Linked DNA regions of Homo sapiens: region 2 is linked to region 1. Evidence: fine-mapped expression QTL. A gene starts in region 1. The other region holds a variant in brackets. All regions are shown on one strand. Distances are between the middles of the regions. Region 1 holds the start of PLEKHM2 (pleckstrin homology and RUN domain containing M2). Region 2 overlaps EFHD2 (EF-hand domain family member D2).

Region 1 (10,730 bases):
AGGTTGCAGTGAGCTGAGATCGTGCCACTGCACTCCAGCCTGGGCAACAAGAGCGAAATTCCGTCTCAAAAACAAAAACACAAAAAACACCACCACTCACTGAAGACTGCACAAGGGTGATCTGCAGAGTCCACAGAGACGCTTGCAAGTAGTAATGGTGGCTTTTATTTAGGCCTGACTGTAAGCAAGGTATTGTGCTAAGTGCTGTAAGTGTGTTCTCTCATATAATTGAATTATCATTATAGCATTAGTAGAAGGTTCTCACTGCTGATGCGAACAGTGGTCCAGTCATCTGCCAGGATCGAGATGGTCAGTTACAAACCCAGACCCAAGTCTGCATACCGCTGAAGCCTGCGTTTGTGTCCACTAGGCTACATGGCTTCCACAGAAAGCACCTTCCAGCCGCATCTTGCAGAACCCTTGGCAATCTTAAGACAGGTCCCTCTTAAGACAGGTCACGCCTGTCCTCGGAAGACCATCTGGAAGGCCCCACTTCCTTGGGGATGCCTAGGCTGTTTCTTCTGTCTTGAATGCCTGCTTCTTCTCTTTCTCTGAACTCTACCAGTATTTCTTTCTTTCTTTTTTTTTTTTTTTTGAGACGGAGTTTCGCTCTTTTTGCCCAGGCTGGAGTGCAATGGTGCCACAACTCACCACAACCTCCGCCTCCCGAGTTTAAGCGATTCTCCTGCCTCAGCCTCCCGAGTAGCTGGGATTACAGGTATGCACCACCACACCTAGCTAATTTTGTATTTTTAATAGAGATGGGGTTTCTCGATGTTGGTCAGGCCGGTCTCGATCTCCTGACCTCAGGTGATCCGCCCGCCTCGGCCTCCCAAAGTGTTGGGGTTACAGGCATGAGCCACCGCGCCTGGCCAGGAGGTTGCTTCTTATGGCATATAGTCTTTGCTCATTCTGCAGGCATATGCAGCAGACACACCAGCTCCTCAAAAACAGAACTTGGGAAAATCACTGCCTGCCTTCCCTCCCCTGGAGAAGATGTTATTTAGTAGAACCACATGCTGATTCAAAAATGCCAAAGCTGTCGTTGACTTGGACATTTCTCTTTAACAAATCGGCAACCACAGGCTTTACTGGCAGCATCTGGGATGTTTCTGCTACTAGCTCCCTTTCTAGAATTGAATATGAATTGAATTTGCTATTGTTATCATTTCCTTTTTTTTTTTTTTTTTTGAGACAGAGTCTCCCTCTGTCACCCACGCTGGAGTGCAATGGCGCGATCTCAGTTCACTGCAACCTCCACCTCCCAGGTCAAGTGCTTCCCTGCCTCAGCCTCCCAAGTAGCTGGGACTACAGGCACGCGCCACCACACCCAGCTAATTTCTGTATTTTTGGTAGAGATGGGGTTTCACCATGTTGGCAAGGCTGGTCTTGAACTTCTGGCCTCAAGTTATCCATCCACCTTGGCCTCCCAAAGTGCTGGGATTACAGGCGTGAGCCACCATGCCTGGCCTATTGTTATCATTTTCATTTAATCATGTTAATTATTAAACTCTCCAGTTCTCTCTCACCCTCAGGAATTCTGTGTCCATATCAGAACACAGGTTGCCTTGGATTCAGATGGATTAACAGCTGTTTCACCTGTCTGGTGTTATAATGGGTATTCACCATCACAAAATCTAAGTGTGAAAATAGTTGAACTCAACAATACTCCTTGGGGATAGTGGTTGCTTTGAGGGTGTAGTTTCTGGGAGGGGAACGAGGGGCCCTCTGGGATAATGGTCATGTTCTGTTTCTTGGTCAGGGTGCTGGATATGCAGGTGTTTTCACTTTGTGAGAACTCATTAAGCTGTCCGCTCAGGACCTGTACACTTTCCTGTAGGCATGCTTCATTTTCATAAAAAGTTCTAAAGTACTCTTTGCAAATATAGAAATACACAATGGATCTTTCCTTGCAGAAATATGCATCTCATTTTCTTCACGTAAAATCCTTATAAAATGACCAGTAAGACCATTTACTGGTGGTAGGATGCAAGAAAAAAGGCAAAGCAACTCTCAAGGTGCTATATAACACATTTAGGTGAGACTGGCATTCAAGGACAAATCTGACCCCAAGACTGCTGTCCTCAATGTCTACTGCTGTAGCCAAACTAACAGGTTCCTAGTAAAGCAGACACTCTGATTCAGAAAACCAAATGTAATTTATGATGCAAGAATCACATCGCAGTTGTCTCAAACAAACACACAAAGGAAGTGGCTACCAAGAACAAATGGTGTTGTAGAACGACCTTTAGGTGGTGAGGCAGTTGAGCCATCTTCAAACCTTGTAAAATTGAGGAATGGGCTCTTGCACAAAGAAAAAAGCTACCAGTTAAGACTGGGCCAGGATCCATGCTAAACACTCTACATGTTTATTAAAACTTCACCATGCCTGTAATCCCAGCACTTTGGGAGGCCGAGGTGAGCGGATCATGAGGTCAGGAGATCGAGACCATCCTGGCTAACACGGTGAAACCCCGTCTCTACTAAAAATACAAAAAAATTAGCCGGGCATAGTGGCGGGCGCCTGTAACCTGTAGTCCCAGCTACTCGGGAGGCTGAGGCAGGAGAATGGCGTGAACCTGAGAGACGGAGCTTGCAGCGAGCTGAGATCACGCCACTGCACTCCAGCCTGGGTGACAGAGCAAGACTCCATCTCAAAAAAAACAAAAAACAAAAAACAAACAAACAAAATCTTCATAACACAGCCTGACCAATATGGGCGAAATCCCATCTCTACAAAAAATACAAAAAGTAGTCGGGCACGGTGGCTCATGCCTGTAATCCCAGCACTTCGGGGGGCCAAGGCAGGCAGATCACTTGAGGTCAGGAGTTCAAGACCAGCCTGGCCAACATGGGGAAACCCCATCTCCACTAAAAATACAAAAATTAGACGCTGGGCGCCGTGGCTCACGCCTGTAATCCCAGCACTTTGGGAGGCCGAAGCGGGCAGATCACAAGGTGAGGAGATCGAGACCATCCCTGGTTAACATGGTGAAACCCCGTCTCTACTAAAAATACAAAAAAATTAGCCGGGCGTGGTGGCCGGCGCTTATAGTCCCAGCTACTTGGGAGGCTGAGGCAGGAGAATGGTGTGAACCCATGAGGCGGAGCTTGCACTGAGCGGAGATCAGGCCACTGCATTCTAACCTGGGCGACAGAGCGAGACTCCGTCTCAAAAAAAAAAAAAAAAAATTTAGCCGGGTGTGGTGGCGCACACCTGTAATCCCAGCTACTCGAGAGGCCGAGGCAGAAGAATCGCTTGAACCTGGGAGGTGGAGGTTGTAGTGAGCCGAGATCACACCACTGCCCTCCAGCCCAGGCAACAGAGCAAGACTCTGTCTCAAAAACAAACAACAACAACAACAACAACAAAAAAACACTCCACAACATCCCTAATTTTATCCCTGCTTTACAGATGAAGAAACTGGGCATGGAGAGGTTAATAAGCCTGACCAAGGTTACAGGGTTATTAATTTGGCAGGGCGGGGATTCAATCAGGCAGCTGGACTCCAGAATCCATGCTCCTAACAATGATGCTGCCCATGGCTTTGGTTGTGATACACCCAGGGATGGGTTTGCAGTTTCTAGTGTGACATTTTCTGGGGTGCATTCCAGCTCAATAAGTGTCCTTGTCCAAACACCTACAATTATATGCACCTCAACAAACACACCTAACTCATAAGTGACAGCCTGACTTACAAAGTGAATCTCTGCCTTCAAAAGACTCATGCTTATACATGTGACAGCGTGCCCCATGTCTACTGCCTCTCCATCACAGACTTTCTCCATTCATTTGTTTGAAATCCAAAGACAAACGCCGGGCCTACCTAAAGCCACAATCAGCCCAGATTAGATTAGAAAGGTCACCTGTGTTCCTTTCTCTTCCATTAGGAAAGATGTACTGCTTCTCAACAAAGTATTTGCTCATCCTGCCCTCCTTGAGTAAGCAAAAACCATACCCCATTACATTAGCAAAGCTCAGTAAAACTACGTAAAACTCTTGTTGGATCTCTGCAATGTTACTTTAGCTGTGCTTTTAGAGGAATGTTTTCAGTAAGGGCAATTCGAGAATCTATTTTCTTTTTAAGTCACATTTATCTTTATGAAAGGTAAAATAGCTTGCCTGTGTTGCTTTTGAGGAATCTCAGTGGGAAAACAGACAATTATTTAAATATGATGGTTGATCTAATTAATTCTATCCATTTTGCTTCTTCAAGTAAAATAAGCTGCTGAGTCCCTCACCCAAGCCATTTTCTTTCTCTTTTTTCTTTCTTTCTTTCTTTTTTTTTTTTTTTTTTTCAGTTTCTGAGACTATCTGGTGAGCCAGGAATTCAAATTACACAAACACACACACAGAGAGGGAGAGAGAGAGAAAAATCCATTCTGATTTGGCCATTTAGGTTTTCAGTGAATATGGATTCTTTTAAATTTATTATTATTATTTTTATATCCAGCCCAAAAACGTCAGAATATGGATTCTACCTTCTAGCACGGACCCTTTTGCGGATATGCCAACTTCATCACAAATACATGCCCTTGACAGGTATGTACTCATTTCTACCTGGAATTGGGACAGTGATGTTTACTGCGGCAAGCCCCACAGCAAGGTGTCTGTGGTGTCACCCGGTTCCCCGGATCAGCATCCAAAATGCAATCCCCATGTACTTCAGGTTCTTATAATCAAAGCCCCTAGTGAACCTCTTCAAAGCTACCATCCTTGAGCAAGATTATTCAGGGGACTTCCCAGGAGCAGAGGCAATGTCGCCGGGACCCAGGCCATGGGAAAGTGAAGTTGCTTATCACTGGCCTCCACCCTGACTGCCAGACCCTGGGCGACGCCAGCCTGGCGGGGGGACCCGGGGATGCAGCGGATTCCACAGGAGGCTGCATGGGGTTCCTTCAGGAGCTCCCGGGGGCGCCGCTGCCCCAGTGGGGGACCGGAGGGTCGCTGACCCCTCTCCGGGAGGGCAGGGCCCCGGGCCAGGTTTGGGGAAGCTCCGAGGATGCTGACCTCAACTTTGTTCTTTAAAAATAGCTCCGAGGCCGCGGCGCTCACGTGAGCGGCGCCGCTTCCCCTCTACCGGCCCGGGGCTCCCGGCCGCTCGTCGCCCCCCGGGTCGCGGAGGGGAAGGGCGGGGGGCCCCGGCCCGGGAGAGCGCCGCCGGAGGGCGTGGGGGGCGCGGCGAGGAAGGGGCCCCGGCCGGGAGGGAGGCCGCGCTCACCTTCTTCACCGACAGCGAGATGTTCTCCAGGATCCGGTCCTTCACCTCCCCCGGCTCCATGGCGCTGCCACCGTCGCCGCCACCGCCACCGCCACCGCCGCCGCCGCCCCGCCGCCGCTTCCCGCGCCGGGGGCCGGGGGCCGCCGCCAACCGCTGCCGCCGGCCGTACGGGGGCTCCGTCGTGCCGGCCGCGGGGCCCGGCGCCCGCCGCCCGGCCCTCGCCTCGCCTGGGCCCTCGCTCCACCGCGGCCCGGAGGCTCCGGAGCGCGGCCGGCGGGGAAGGAGGCCGCGGGCTGTGCGCCGCGGCGGCGGCGGCGGCAGGAACTGATGTCAGGCGGGGCGGCGCCAGGGCCCGCCTGCGCCTGGGGACTCCGGGGACCCGGAGACCCGCACAGACCCTTGGCCGCGGCCCTCCCCAGAGACCCCGAGACCCGCCCCCAGCCCTCCTCAAGTCACAGACTCTCCCCGGCACCCCAGAGACACCCTCAGACCCCAGGGACGCCAGAGACCTCGACCCCGCCTGCCGGGGACCTCGGGGCTCCTCAGAGACCCTCCCCAAGCCCTCCTCAGCCCACAGATTCCTTCAGGGACCCCAGAGACACCCTCAGACCCCAGGGACTCCGGACACCCCGACCCCGCCTGCCAGAGACCCCCACAGACCCTGGGACCCCGGCCCTCCTCGGAGACCCTCCCCCAGGCCTCGTCAGCCCACAGATTCCCTCAGGGACCCCAGAGACACCCTCAGACCCCAGGAACTCCGGAGACCCCGACCCCGCCTGCCCGGGACACCGGCCCTCCTCAGAGACCCTGGAGACCCTCCCCCTCAGCCCTCAGGCCATAGACTCCCCCCTGGGACCTCAGAGACACCCTCAGACTCCAGGGACTCCGGAGACCCCAACCCCACCTGCTGGGGACCCCCACAGACCCTGGGCCCCCAGCCCTCCTCAGAGACCCCCAAAGACCCCGAGGCACTGGCCCTCCCCAGAGACCCTGAGACCCTCCCCACAGCCCTCCTCAGCCCACAGGATCCCCCCACAAAACCCCAGAGACTCCCACAGGCCCCAAGGACTCTGGAGACTCCGACCCCACAGGCCAGAGACCCCCACAGACCCTGAGACCCCGGCCCTCCTCAGAGACTCGAGACACCCACAGACCCTGGGCCCCCTCCCGCCGGCCCTCTTTAGTCCACAGACCCCTCCTTGGAGACCCCAGTGCACCCCACTAACTCTGGCCAGGGACCCCAAGACCCTCTTAGCCTGCAAGCCCCACTTATCTTCCTCCCCTTCCTTAGCCCAGCCACCCCCTCAATGTGCAGACCCAGGCCCCCTGGCTTTCGCAGCCTGGAGGACCCAGCACCCCCACCGGGTCAGCCTAGACTCCAGTCCCCAGCCCTAGACCCTCCCTGGGCCCCCTGGCCCTCCACAGCCTCCCCTCCTCAGTGCCTCACCCTCAAGGCCCAGTCCTACATTTGAGGTCCCTGGTGTTCCTCCCCACCCCCAAAACACACCCTCCTCACCTTCAGCCCCAATGCCCCATTCCCACTCCTTATCCTTATCCCTCTTCTTCAGCCCCACGTATCCCAAGGGCCTCAACTCCCTCAGCCCCTGAAACCCACCGTAACAACTCTCTTCCCACACACCCTCCTCAAATCCACCATCTCATAAAGCCCCTGCACTTAGAGGTGTCAGTCTCCTACCTGGCTCTCTTCCCTCCTTAAGTTCCCAAATAAATATATCCTGACACATAGATTAGTCCCTCCTTTTTATTCTCAGACACCCCAGTTCTCAACTCTGGTTCCCTGGTCTTCCCTCTTCTCTGCTCAGGCCACCCCATCCCTGAAGTCCCCTTAGCATCTGAAATACTGATTCATTGCTTATCTCAGAGGGACCCCACAAGCCTCCAAAGGTCGCTCCCCAGCCCCTTAGTTTCCCAAGGAGAGACCCAAAATAGTGGTACTTTGTTTTTTGTTTTTTTTGTTTTGTTTTGTTTTGTTTGTTTTTGAGACAGAGCCTTGCTCTGTTCCCCAGGCTGGAATGCGGTGGTGCGATCTCTGCTCACTGCAACTTCCGCTTCCCAGCTTTAAGCGATTCTCCTGCCTCAGCCTCCCGAGTAGCTGGGACTACAAGTGCATGTGACACCATGCCCAGCTAATTTTTTTTTTTTTTTTTGAGGCGGAGTCTCGCTCTGTCACCCAGGCCGGAGTGCGGTGGCACAATTTCAGCTCACTGCAACTTCCTCCTCCCAGGTTCAAGTGATTCTCCTGTCTCAGCCTCCCCAGTAGCTGGGATTACGGGCGCCTGCCACCACGCCCAGCTAATTTTTTTGTATTTTTAGTAGAGACGGGGTTTCGCCATGTTGGCCAGGCTGGTCTTGAACTCCTGACCTCAGGTGATCTGCCCGCCTTGGCCTTAAATTATTTTTTAAAGACAGGGTCTCACTCTGTCACCCAGGCTGGAGTGCAGTGGTGGGTGTGATCATAGCTCACTGTAGCTTGAACTCCCTGGGGGATCCTCCCACGTCAGCCTCCCCAGTAGCTGAGAGTACAGAATAAAATACGCCCAGCGAATTTTATTTTTTGTAGAGACAGGGCCTCGCTCTGTTACCCAGGCTGGTCTTGAACTCCTGAGCTCAGGCCATCCTCTTACCTCAGCCTCCCAAAGGGCTGGGATTACGGGCATGAGCCATCATGTCCAGCCCAGGGCGTTTTCTTATTTGTACTGAGTTCAGGAAAGCAAGAGATAACAGCCTCTTTGGAGTTGTTATCTACCTCTCATATTCAGAGAGCAGAATAAGAACAGATGAGGGTTGAGACTCCAGTCACTGGATAGGTAGAGAAAAGGTTGAGGACAGAGGACACATTACTTTGAATGAGGAAATAAATAGCCAGGTATCTATGAGTAGAAATAGCCTCCTACTTACCAAAGGTGTTTGTGGAGTCAGAATTGCGCACTTCCTTCCCACTCCATCCTGGCTAGGGTGCATACAGGCCCCAACCTGCTGGATGCAGCTCTGGTTCATGAAAATGCAGTCCCCCAAAACTGACCCAACAAGCTTTGGGATTCTTCTCTGCTGTTGAATAGCAGGCCATCTTCTGCTGAGCACTGCGTTCTGCTGGGCACCTCCTCCCTAGGAATGGCTGATCATGGCTTGGGCACATGGTACACTCAGTGGGTATTTTTATTCCTTGGCTGTATGCCTGGGGCGTCCACTTGGTCTGTGACATAAGAAGGTGGTGGCATTTCTGCCATATTGTTTTTATCTGCATGTATTGGGAGATGGTCACATTCAGCATTTTACAACATTCAGAGGAATGTAAGGTCTCACTGTCTACCAAATTCCTAAGGTTTGCATAGGTATGTGAGCTGGTACAACAGACATTGTTATCTAACAACACTTCTTGCAGGAAAGAGGGAGAGGCCAAATGTGCATTGATGTGCAGCTAATTGCTCCTTGTCCAGAGTTCAAATATGGAATCCGTTCTGCGTGTCAAACACAGGGCGAGCCGGGCATGGTGGTGCATGTCTATAGCCTCAGCTGCTTTGGAGGCTGAAGAGGGAGGATCTCTTGAGCTCATGTGGCTGCACTCCAGCCTGGGTGACAGAGCAAGACTTCACCTCTTAAAAAACCCCAAAAAGCAAACCAAAAAAAAAAGGGTGACTCTGAAAAACACAAGATACTTATTTGTTATTGGGAGTCACTTAAGCTGGAAATTGAAGCTCATTCATTTATTGCACAAGACTTTTCTGATCTCATGAGAAGTGCATGGGACTCTGAGTCAAAAGGCAACAAGAATTAAAAGCCTCAACTGACTCATGCTAGGGCCTCAGGCAAGTCACTTTGCCTTAATTTCCAAATCAGTGACCCAGGAAAAATGATTCTATTCTTATTTTTTGTTGTTGTTGTTTTTTGAGATGGAGTTTTACTCTGTCGCCCAGGCTGGAGTGCAGTGGCTCCATCTTGGCTCACTGCAACCTCCGCCCCCCCCGGGTTCAAGTGAGTCTCCTGCCTCAGTTTCCCAAGTAGCTGGGATTACAGATTCCTGCCACTGCACCTGGCTAATTTTTGTATTTTTAGTAGAGTTGGGGTTTCACCATCTTGGCCAGGCTGGTCTCGAGCTCTTGACCTCATGATCCACCTGCCTCAGCCTCCTAAAGTGCTGGGATTACAGGTGTGAGTCACCGCGCCCAGCCTGTTGTTTTCTGAGACAGAGTCTCGCTCTGTCACCCAGGCTGGAGCGCAGTGGCGTGTTCTCAGCTGACTGCAGCCTCTGCCTACTGTCATAGCATTTAGAATACAGTCCATACTCTTTTCTCTGGCTTCCAAGGCTGATCTGATCCAGCCTCCCTCCCTGACTCATCTCCTAACTCTCCGCTGGTGTGTGCCAGCCCCACCAACCTTAGTTTCTCAAGCATGCTGGTCTGTTCGCATCCGAGGGCCTCTAGCTATTCACCCAAATCTGCTCTCTCTGGCTGCGTGTGATGGCTCACGCCTGTAATCCCAGCACTTTGGGAGCCCAAGGTGGGACGATCACTTGAGCCCAGGAGTTCAAGACCAGCCTGGGCAACAAAGTGAGACCCCCCATCTCTACAAAAAATCCAAAAATTAGCCAGGCATGGTGATGTGTTCCTGTGATCCCAGCTACATGGGAGGTTGAGGCTGCAGTGAGCCATGTTTGCACCACTGCACTCCAACCTAGGCAACAGAGCAAGACCCTGTCTCAAAACAAAAGCCAAACAACAAAAAAACAAAATCTTCTCTCTCTTTACACAGTAATAGGGTTGTAGCCAGGCAGAGTGCTGCACTACATTTCCCAGCCTCCTTTGTGACACGCACAGCTATATGATCAAATCCTCTCAAATAGAACATGAACAGAGAAATGTGATCCATTCCTAGGCTGGGATTCTATGCAAATTTCCTCTTCCATGCTGTTTCTTCTTCTACCAGTGCAATGAAGCCAAGGGGATGTCAGACATATAAAATATAGACACCCTAGTTCCCTGAATCACTGCATGGAAGAGAGCTGTCCATCAACCTAGAACAGCTGCCTTGAGCTGTAGCATAGAAAGGGCTATGCTACAGTTTCTTTTTTTCTGATTAATTTTCTGATTAATTTCTTTTTTCTGATTAATTTTTAACTTAATTAAAATGCAGATAAAGTTTTTAGCTGGCCATGGAAGTTAAAGGACAAAAGACACTGGGTGCAGTGGCTCACGCTTGTAATCCCAGCACTTTGGGATGCCGAGGTGGGTGGATTGCCTGAGGTCAGGAGTTCAAGACCCCAGCCTGGGTGACAAAAAATAAAAAAGAGAGAACTAAGGACAGATGTAAGGTTGCTTCTCTTTACACCTGATGATACAGTTTGGATATTTGTTTCAAATCTCATGTCAAAATGTAATCCTTAGGCCAGGCACGGTGGCTCATTCCTATAATCCCAGCACTTTGGGAGGCCAAGGCAAGCAGATCACTTGAGGTCAGGAGTTCGAGACCAGCCTGGCCAACATGGTGAAA
Region 2 (8,000 bases), 260 kb after region 1:
CACTCTCAGGTTCTCTTTTTTTCTACCACTAACAACCTGGCAGAGACAGGGGTGGGGTTGGGGGCAAGTCCCTCTTGACTGGCTTCTGTGTAGTAAGAGTCTAGGTGGCCTTTCTGCCTGTTGCCTGGCTGGGAAGGCACCACTGGTTCCTGGAGCACACAGCCTGGTGAAAGAGGGCGAGGCGCTGTTTGCCCAGCTGGGCTCTCTTATCAACCAAACACCTGCCCTACTGGTCTCTGGGAACAGCGTAGGAGGAAGACAAGATGGGGGCTGGGGAGAGTGATCCCAGAGTTGGTAACATGGGTTTTTCTTTTTTTTTTTTTTCTTTTTGAGACGGGGTGTTGCTCTGTTACCCAGGCGCGATCACAGCTTACTGCAGCCTCTACCTCCTGGGCTCAAGCGATCCTCCCGCCTCAGCCTCCCAAGTAGCTGGGACTGCAGGTGCATGCCACCATGACTGGCCAAGTTTTGTATTTTTTTTGTAGAGACGGGGTGTCAATATGTTGCCCAGGCTGGTCTCAAACTCCTGGGCTCAAGCAATCCTCCTACATCAGCCTCCCAGAGTGCTGGAATTACAGGCGTGCACCACTTTGCCCAGCCAAAATGGGTTTTTCTGCACCTAAAGAAGGCTTGTGCAGTCCCCCAGGCCTTGAACTGGCTGGGTGACAGTGCTGGTGACAGCAGCGCAACACAGGTGGATGTGTTCCAGAACCCTATGTCCCGGGCGCTTGAGCTTCTGCATGAATATGTCTCATTTCTGCACCTTCTTACGGGCTCCCCAGCTCCTTTCGCCTTCTCTAGTTAGGTGTACTTTGAACACCTAATAGCAACCATGTACTGAGATCTGTCTTTATGCTGGGAACTGCTTACTTTACTTAATTTTCCTAATAACCTTATTTTATGACCAAGGCTCAGAGAGGTTAAGTGACCCACCCACAGTCACACAGCAGTAAGGAAGGAGCTGGGCTTCCAGACTTGATCTGCTGGGCTCATAAACTTGCACATTTGCTCTGTACCCAGCCCCTCCCCAACGTGTCCTGGGGCTGCTGCAGAACACAGACGGCTGCCTGGAGCACAAGGGGAGCATTTGTGCGAGGGGTATAAATAGTTCACGAGCCAGTGAGTCAGTGGTTGAAAGTGACACAGCAAAGATGGGTCTTGGGAGCCCTGGAGGGAACACAGGGTCCTGCGGCTTCTGCCCCACTGATGGATGAGGGTTGGGGTGGAGGTGGATGGGCCAGCAGCCCCTGTGGGCAGTGGCCACCTCTGTGACAGTAGAAGGTGTGGGACTCAGAGGGTCAGGCAGGCCAAAGCTGCTGTGGTCCAGCCTCCACCTGGAGCTGGAGGGGTTCTGGGGGGCACAGCGGAGGCGCCTCCTGCCATCTCTGGTCCCTGTTTGCTGCCTGGTAGAGGGCTGGGCGGGCGCCACATGACCGTGGGGCTGTGCAGGAGCACCTGGTGAGGGACTCAGTCTTTCCTGAGCCAAGTCACGAGGACTCCCCTCCTCAGTGCCCCCCAGGAAAGCAAAGCCCTGCCGCTTTCTGACCCTGGGCTCCCAAGGTCAGCGATGACAGTCAGGCTCTGAAGCCAAATTGCCTGGGCTCCTCAGCCACAAAATGCAGCATCTCTTTTTATTTTTATTTTTTTGAGACGGAGTCTCGCTCTGTCGCCCAGGCTGGAGTGCAGTGGCGCAATCTTGGCTCACTGCAAGCTCTGCCTCCTGGGTTCACTCCATTCTCCTGCCTCAGCCTCCTGAGTAGCTGCGACTACAGGTGCCCGCCACCACGCTCGGCTAATTTTTTGTATTTTTAGTAGAGATGGGGTTTCACCGTGTTAGCCAGGATGGTTTCGATCTCCTGACCTCATGATCCGTCCGCCTCGGCCTCCCAAAGTGCTGAGATTACAGGTGTGAGCCACCGCACCTGGCCAAAATGCAGCATCTCTTAAGCTGGGGTGCATGTGCCCCCCAGGAGACATCTGGCAATGTCTAGAGGTGTTTTTGGTTGTCATACCTGGGGCGGCGGAGGTGGGGGGGATGCCAGTGGCATCTGGTGGGTGGAGGCCAGGGAAGCTCCTATAGCGCATAGGGTGGCCCCACCGCAAAGAATGACCTGGCCAGCTGGGCACGGTGGCTCACGCCTATAATCCCAGCGCTTTGGGAGGCTGAGGCAGGCAGATCATGAGGTCAGGAGATCAAGACCATCCTGGCCAACATGGTGAAACCCTGTCTCTATTAAAAATACACAAATTAGCTGGGCATGGTGGCAGGCACCTGTAATCCCTGCTACTTGGGAGGCTGAGGCAGGAGAATCACTTAAACACAGGAGGTGGAGGTTGCAATGAGCTGAGATGGCACCACTGCACTCCAGCCTGGGCGACAAAGCAAGACTCTGTCTCAAAAAAAAAAAAAAAAAAAAAAAAATGGAATGACCTGGCCCCAAGTGCCAGTGGAGCTGAGGCTGAGAACCCTGCTGCAATGGGGCCTCTCTCATGGGCCACTGTGAGGAACGACTGAGCCCATCCCTGTCAAGCACTCAGCACAGCTCCCAGCGCACAGAGCTAGCTGCATAAATGGCAGTCACCACCGCTAAAACAAGATTGAATCACCGTCACTAAACTCCCAACGCACCAGCACTTTCTCTTTACAATCCCTGTGCTCAGCAATCCTCCAGGTCCGGATTAGGTCAGGAGGGCTGTTGGTGAGGCCACAGGTCCCATAACCAGCAGGTCAGGGGTTCACGCCCCAGCCCCTGGGTCCCACGTGTCTCTCCCTGAGCCCCAGCTTTATTTATTGCTCAAGTGCATGGGTTTCTTCTGCAGCCAGGGGCAGCTCAGTTTCAGAGGAAGTGCAGATAAAGTGTCCAAACTTGGATGGAAACGTGGGCTGTGGATCCCTCTGTCTTTGGCAGCTCCCAGGCCTGGCTGGGCTGTGGCTCAAACCATGATTTGAACGGCCGCCTCTATCAATCAAAGGCCAATCAATTACTGGGGCTGGGCTCCATCCAGGGCAGGCTCTGGCCCCCAGGGGGACAATACAGGGGCTGGCTGCGGTGCCAAAGAGTCCATCACCAAGAGGAGGTGACGGGGGCTGCGAGAGGCCAGGTGCTGGGGTGGGCGGTGAAGCCCCCAGAGGTAGCCGTGGAGGAGGCCATTCCCAAGAGACTCCTGGAGAGTGGCCATCTGCCCTGTGCCCTGGGCTCTGATGTGGTCTAGTGCAGGGGATCAGCCAGGTTCCAGGGTCAACCTGATTGAAGATGGCCTTGAGGGTTTGTGGTTACATCAACTCCGCTGAGACTGACCTGGGTCCAAACCCCAGCTCTGCCACCTGCTGGCAGAGTGACCTGGTCAAGTCACCTAACCCCACAGACCTCAATTTCCTCATCTACATCATGGAGATCAAAGAACTCATCTCAGGATGGAGGCAAGGATTAAAAGAGACGATACAAGCAGACTCTTGGCACAGAGCCTGGTCCACAGGAAGCACTTCATACATGCCTACTATGATACTAAAAACCAGTTATTATTATTCCTAACATCTACCTTTAAGATTATTAAAGAGTAAATGAGGCTGGACGTGGTGGCTCATGTCTATAATGCCAGCACTTTGGGAGGCTGAGGATCACTTGAGCCCAGGAGTTTCAGACCAGCTTGGGCAAGATAGGGAGACCACATCTCTATAAAAAAATAAAGGGCCAGGTGCGGTGGCTCATGCCTGTAATCCCAGCATTTTGGGAGGCTGAGGCAGGCGGATCACGAGGTCAGGAGTTCGAGACCAGCCTGACCAACATGGTAAAACTCCGTCTCTACTAAAAGTGTAGAAATTAGCCAGGCATGGTGGCACGCACCTGTAATTCCAGCTACTCAGGAAGCTGAGTCAGGAGAATTGCTTGAACCCAGGAGATGGAGGTTGCAGTGAGCTGAGATCATGCCACTGCACTCCAGCCTGGGTGACAAAGTGAGACACTGTCTCAAAAAATAAATAAATAAATAAATAAATAATTAGCTGGGCGTGGTGGTGTATGCCTCTGGTCCCAGCTACTAGGGAGGCTGTGGTGGGAGGATCACTTTAGCCCGGGAGGTTGAGGCTGCAGTGAGCCCTGATCGAGCCACTGCTCTTCAGCCTGGGCAACAGAGTGAGACCTTGTTTAAAAGACAAACAAACACAAAAAAGAAAATGAAAATGAGCTGACAGATATAAAATGCCTGGCACATAGTGAGTCCTTCAAACCTGTTAATTTCATCATCATCGTAATAGTAGTTGTTATATTGAGAAGTTTGTGTGTGTCACATATGCACATCATATACTTCACATATACAATATAAAAA[G/T]GGTGATGATATTAGAAATAATGATAAAAAACACACTGGCTTCTGCCACAGGCTCCAGTCCTGACTGGTGGTACAGGGTTGGGAGGCAGGGCTTGTGGTGGCTTGGCCTGGAGGCAGGGGTGGACATGATGACCCAGGGGATCCCTCCAGCATGACCTCTCCTCTAAAGGCCCACTTTTCCCCTACTAGGCCCGACGCAAAGCCCCAGCATCTCTGGGAGGTAGGAAGACAGAAGACCGCTGGACAGAGCCCTTGAACAGGGAGAGAGGAGCCTCAGGGAGCGAGGAACCTTCCCTCGGGGTTGGAGAAAAGTGAGGAAGGGGCTACTCTCATGGTGCCAATGTGTGTGTGGGACAACTGGCAGCACAGGAGAGAACGAGGTTCCACGATGGCTGGAAACAGGCATCTCCTGGGCTAGAGGGCCTCTCACCCACCAGCCCTTCTCCCTGAGCTGGAACTGAGGTTGCAGCTGGCTTAGAGGATCCAGAAAAAGAGAGATCAGCCCGCAAGATCCACCCAGATAGCCTGGTCTACCCGTTTTACATTATGTAGGGAAACTGGGGCCCACAGTGGGCAGTGACTGGCCCAGGGTCACACAGCCAGCAGACTGCAGGATTCCAACAGCTGGAAGTTTTTCTCCTCCCTGGCCCCTCTCTTTTTCCTGGTCCCATGGAGGGTCCCACATTCTCAAGCTTGCAGGGCCAGTGGAGGCTGGACTGAGAGCCCAGCTTGGTGCCTGTTTGGGAAGGCCAATGCCATTCGGCAGTACTGGCAGAAAGCGCCCAGCCTGGGAGCTCAGCACTTTTCTCCAGCACCGGAGGGAGGCTGCGGGGCCTGGCACCGTGCCCGCATTCCTATCTGCCTCCCCTTGAATAGTTCTCGTCAGGGAGGGCTCAGCAGCTAGCTGCACCCTGGATGCTGGGGACAAAATCCCCATCCATCCCCCTCTCGAAAGCGGAGCAGCCAGTTACCCCCCAAGGACGACCCTTTCCCTTTGGGGTGAGCATGGTCCCCAGCTGGTTGCTTCCCTGCCCCTGCCCCTCTCCCCAGTTCTGATAACTAGGGAGTCACAGGGGTAGGCAGTGGAGGCGTCAACCATGCACAGTGCAGATGTCCCAGCCTTGCACCCAGGTGAGCCCCACGTCATAATCTATCATCATTCCTGGCTACTCTGCTGAGCACTTGCTATGTGCCAGGCACGATGCCAGGTGTTTTGCATCAGATTCTCACAAGAAGCCTATGAAGCGGCATGAACATGAACCGACAAGGAGACTGAGGCTCAGAGGGGAAGCGACTTAGCCCAGGTCATAGGTGACAAGGGTGTCGCTGGGCTCTGAACCAGGCCTGATCAAACACATGCACTCTTAACGACTATGCTATGCCCTGATGCCTATCAGGACACAGCAGAGAACTTCGGGGTTGGGAGGGATATTAGAGGCCATCTTATTCAGTCGTTCCTGAAAATCAGATTCCTGATGCAGTTCGTTGTTTAGTGCCTTGAATACCTCTGAGGACAGGAAGCTCATTGCTTACTTAAGGGGGGGCCTATCTTGGCTTTGGAACTATTAGAAAGTTGCGGCCGGGTGCCGTGGCTCCCGCCTGTAATCCCAGCACTTTGGGAGGCCAAGGCGGGCGGATCACAAGGTCAGGAGATTGAGACCATCCTGGCTAACACGGTGAAACCCCGTCTCTACTAAAAATACAAAAAATTAGCCGGGCGTGATGGTGGGCGCCTGTAGTCCCAGCTACTCGGGAGGCTGAGGCAGGAGAATGGCGTGAACCCAGGAGGCGGAGCTTGCAGTGAGCCGAGATCGCGCCACTGCACTCCAGCCTGGGTGACAGAGCGAGACTCCATCTCAAAAAAAAAAAAAAAAAAAAAAAAGTTGCTCCTCGACCAGGTGCAGTGGCTCACGCCTGTAATCTCAGCACTTTGGGAGGCCGAGGCGGGCAGATCACTTGAGGCCAGGAGTTTGAGACCAGCTTGGCCAACATGGTGAAACCCTGTCTCTACTAAGAATACAAAAATTAACTGGGTGTGGTGGTGCATGCCTGTAATCCCAGCTACTAGGGAGGCTGAGGCAGAAGAATTGTTTGAACCCGGGAGGCGGAGGCTGCAGTGAGCCAAGATTGTGCCACTGCACTCCAGCCTGGGTGACAGAGCAAGACTCTGTCTCAAAAAAAAAAAAAAAAAAAAAAAAAAGAAAAAGAAAGAAAGTTGCTCCTCGTGCAGGTGCCCCCAAGCTGCACTGCACAGTCTGATGGCAGAAGGAAGCAGAGTCATTGCAAAAACTGCACACGGGAAGGTGGGAGCACAGGGACCCCAATTCTGTCTCTCCTGACTCCCATCCCAGGCTTTACTGATGGCCGCTCTGGGCGTGCAGGTCCCAGGAGAACAGACAATTGGACAGGGTGGGTGTTGGGTATGGGCTCAGGAGCCCTCAGGCCCCCCTGGCTTCCCCAGTTCCTGCATGTCCCCACCCCCAGACTGCCTGACTCATATAGGGAAAGCCCAGCGCTCACCACTTCCTCTAGTCCTATCTGGGAATCTCACACTTGATCTCTTGCCCTAGTTCAGCTAAGTGGGGTATGGGGTTGGGGGAGAAAGAGAGAGAGAGAGAGACGGAGAGATAGAGAGCACATAAGTGTGGCGCTTGGGGCTCCCCCACGGAGGATAAAGAGGGAGACCCCAAGCAATTTGCTGGGGGGCTGTCAGGGCTCAAAGGCATCCTAACCTGGAGTTCAACAACCTCACACCGCACCCACGGCACTCCCTGCCAGCCACCCCCTTTCGCTTCTTGCTCTTCATAGTCATTATTGTTATGATAGTGATTATAAAGAATATTTATTGAATGCCTAATATTAACATAACCCAGTGTTTATAACGTAACTTAATCTTTACTCCATACATCTTATCCTCTTACAGCTCAGACAAAGTCACCCACCTAAGGATAACCTTAGGTCAACCTCAGGAAGTGGTGGGGAGACGGCTGTGCGGGGGCCTGAGCCGAGGCTTAGCGCTTCTTAAACGTCAGTGTGCACACCTGGTGAAGCTGGTTACAGTGCGGATTATGGGCTGGGCGTGGTGGCTCATGCCTGTAATCCCTGCACTTTGGGAGGATGAGGTGGGAGGGTGGCTTGGGGCCAGGAGTTTGAGACCAGTCTGAGCAACATAATGAGACCCCATCTCTACAAAAATAAAAAAAAATTAGCTGGATGTGGTGGCATGTGCCTGTAGTCCCAGCTACTCAGGAGGCTGAGGTGGGAGGATCACTTAAGCCCAGGAAGTTGAGGCTGCAGTGAGCTATGATCGTACCACTGCACTTGGTCTGAGTGACAGAGCAAGACTCTGTCTCTTAAAAAAAAAAATTGCAGATTACAGTCTGGTAAATCTGGGGTGGAATCTGAGCATCTGCATTTCTAACATACTCCCGGGCGGTGAAGCTGCTGGTGTTTGGGCCACTGTAAGGGTTCAGAGGACTTGGAGCCGGGGAGGCCCAGGTTCAAATCCTATTCTGCCCCTCACTGGCTATGTGACTTTGGACAAGTCACATAACCCTTCTGAAAGTCCAGCCTCCTTAACTGTGAAATGGGCGAGGATAATGTTGCAGGATAAGAAAGGACTGAACGGGAGGCAAAGCATCTGGTTTGAAGTGTCTGTGGCTCAGGACTCCCTG

The links. PIP is the estimated chance that this variant, and not a neighbour inherited with it, causes the effect.
Region 2: its variant is the best candidate, but not a certain one, in a credible set for the expression of PLEKHM2 in whole blood (TOPMed, PIP 0.88).

The regions. Positions count from the first base shown.
Region 1 is chr1:15,679,111-15,689,840 of GRCh38, reverse strand. PLEKHM2 (pleckstrin homology and RUN domain containing M2) reads right to left here and starts at 5,521. Exons shown (of 20, transcript NM_015164.4): 1 at 5,223-5,521. The coding sequence starts at 5,282. RefSeq lists enhancers at 4,538-4,597, 9,457-9,957 and silencers at 4,828-4,897, 5,418-5,497, 5,588-5,667, 10,660-10,730.
Region 2 is chr1:15,416,508-15,424,507 of GRCh38, reverse strand. The region is part of intron 1 of EFHD2 (EF-hand domain family member D2); the gene reads right to left. Among named protein-coding and RNA genes, the nearest start is that of EFHD2-AS1, 8.1 kb to the right of the region's middle. RefSeq lists silencers at 6,194-6,313, 7,201-7,495 and enhancers at 7,864-7,953, 7,702-8,000. The variant G/T (reference allele first, on the strand shown) is at 4,327.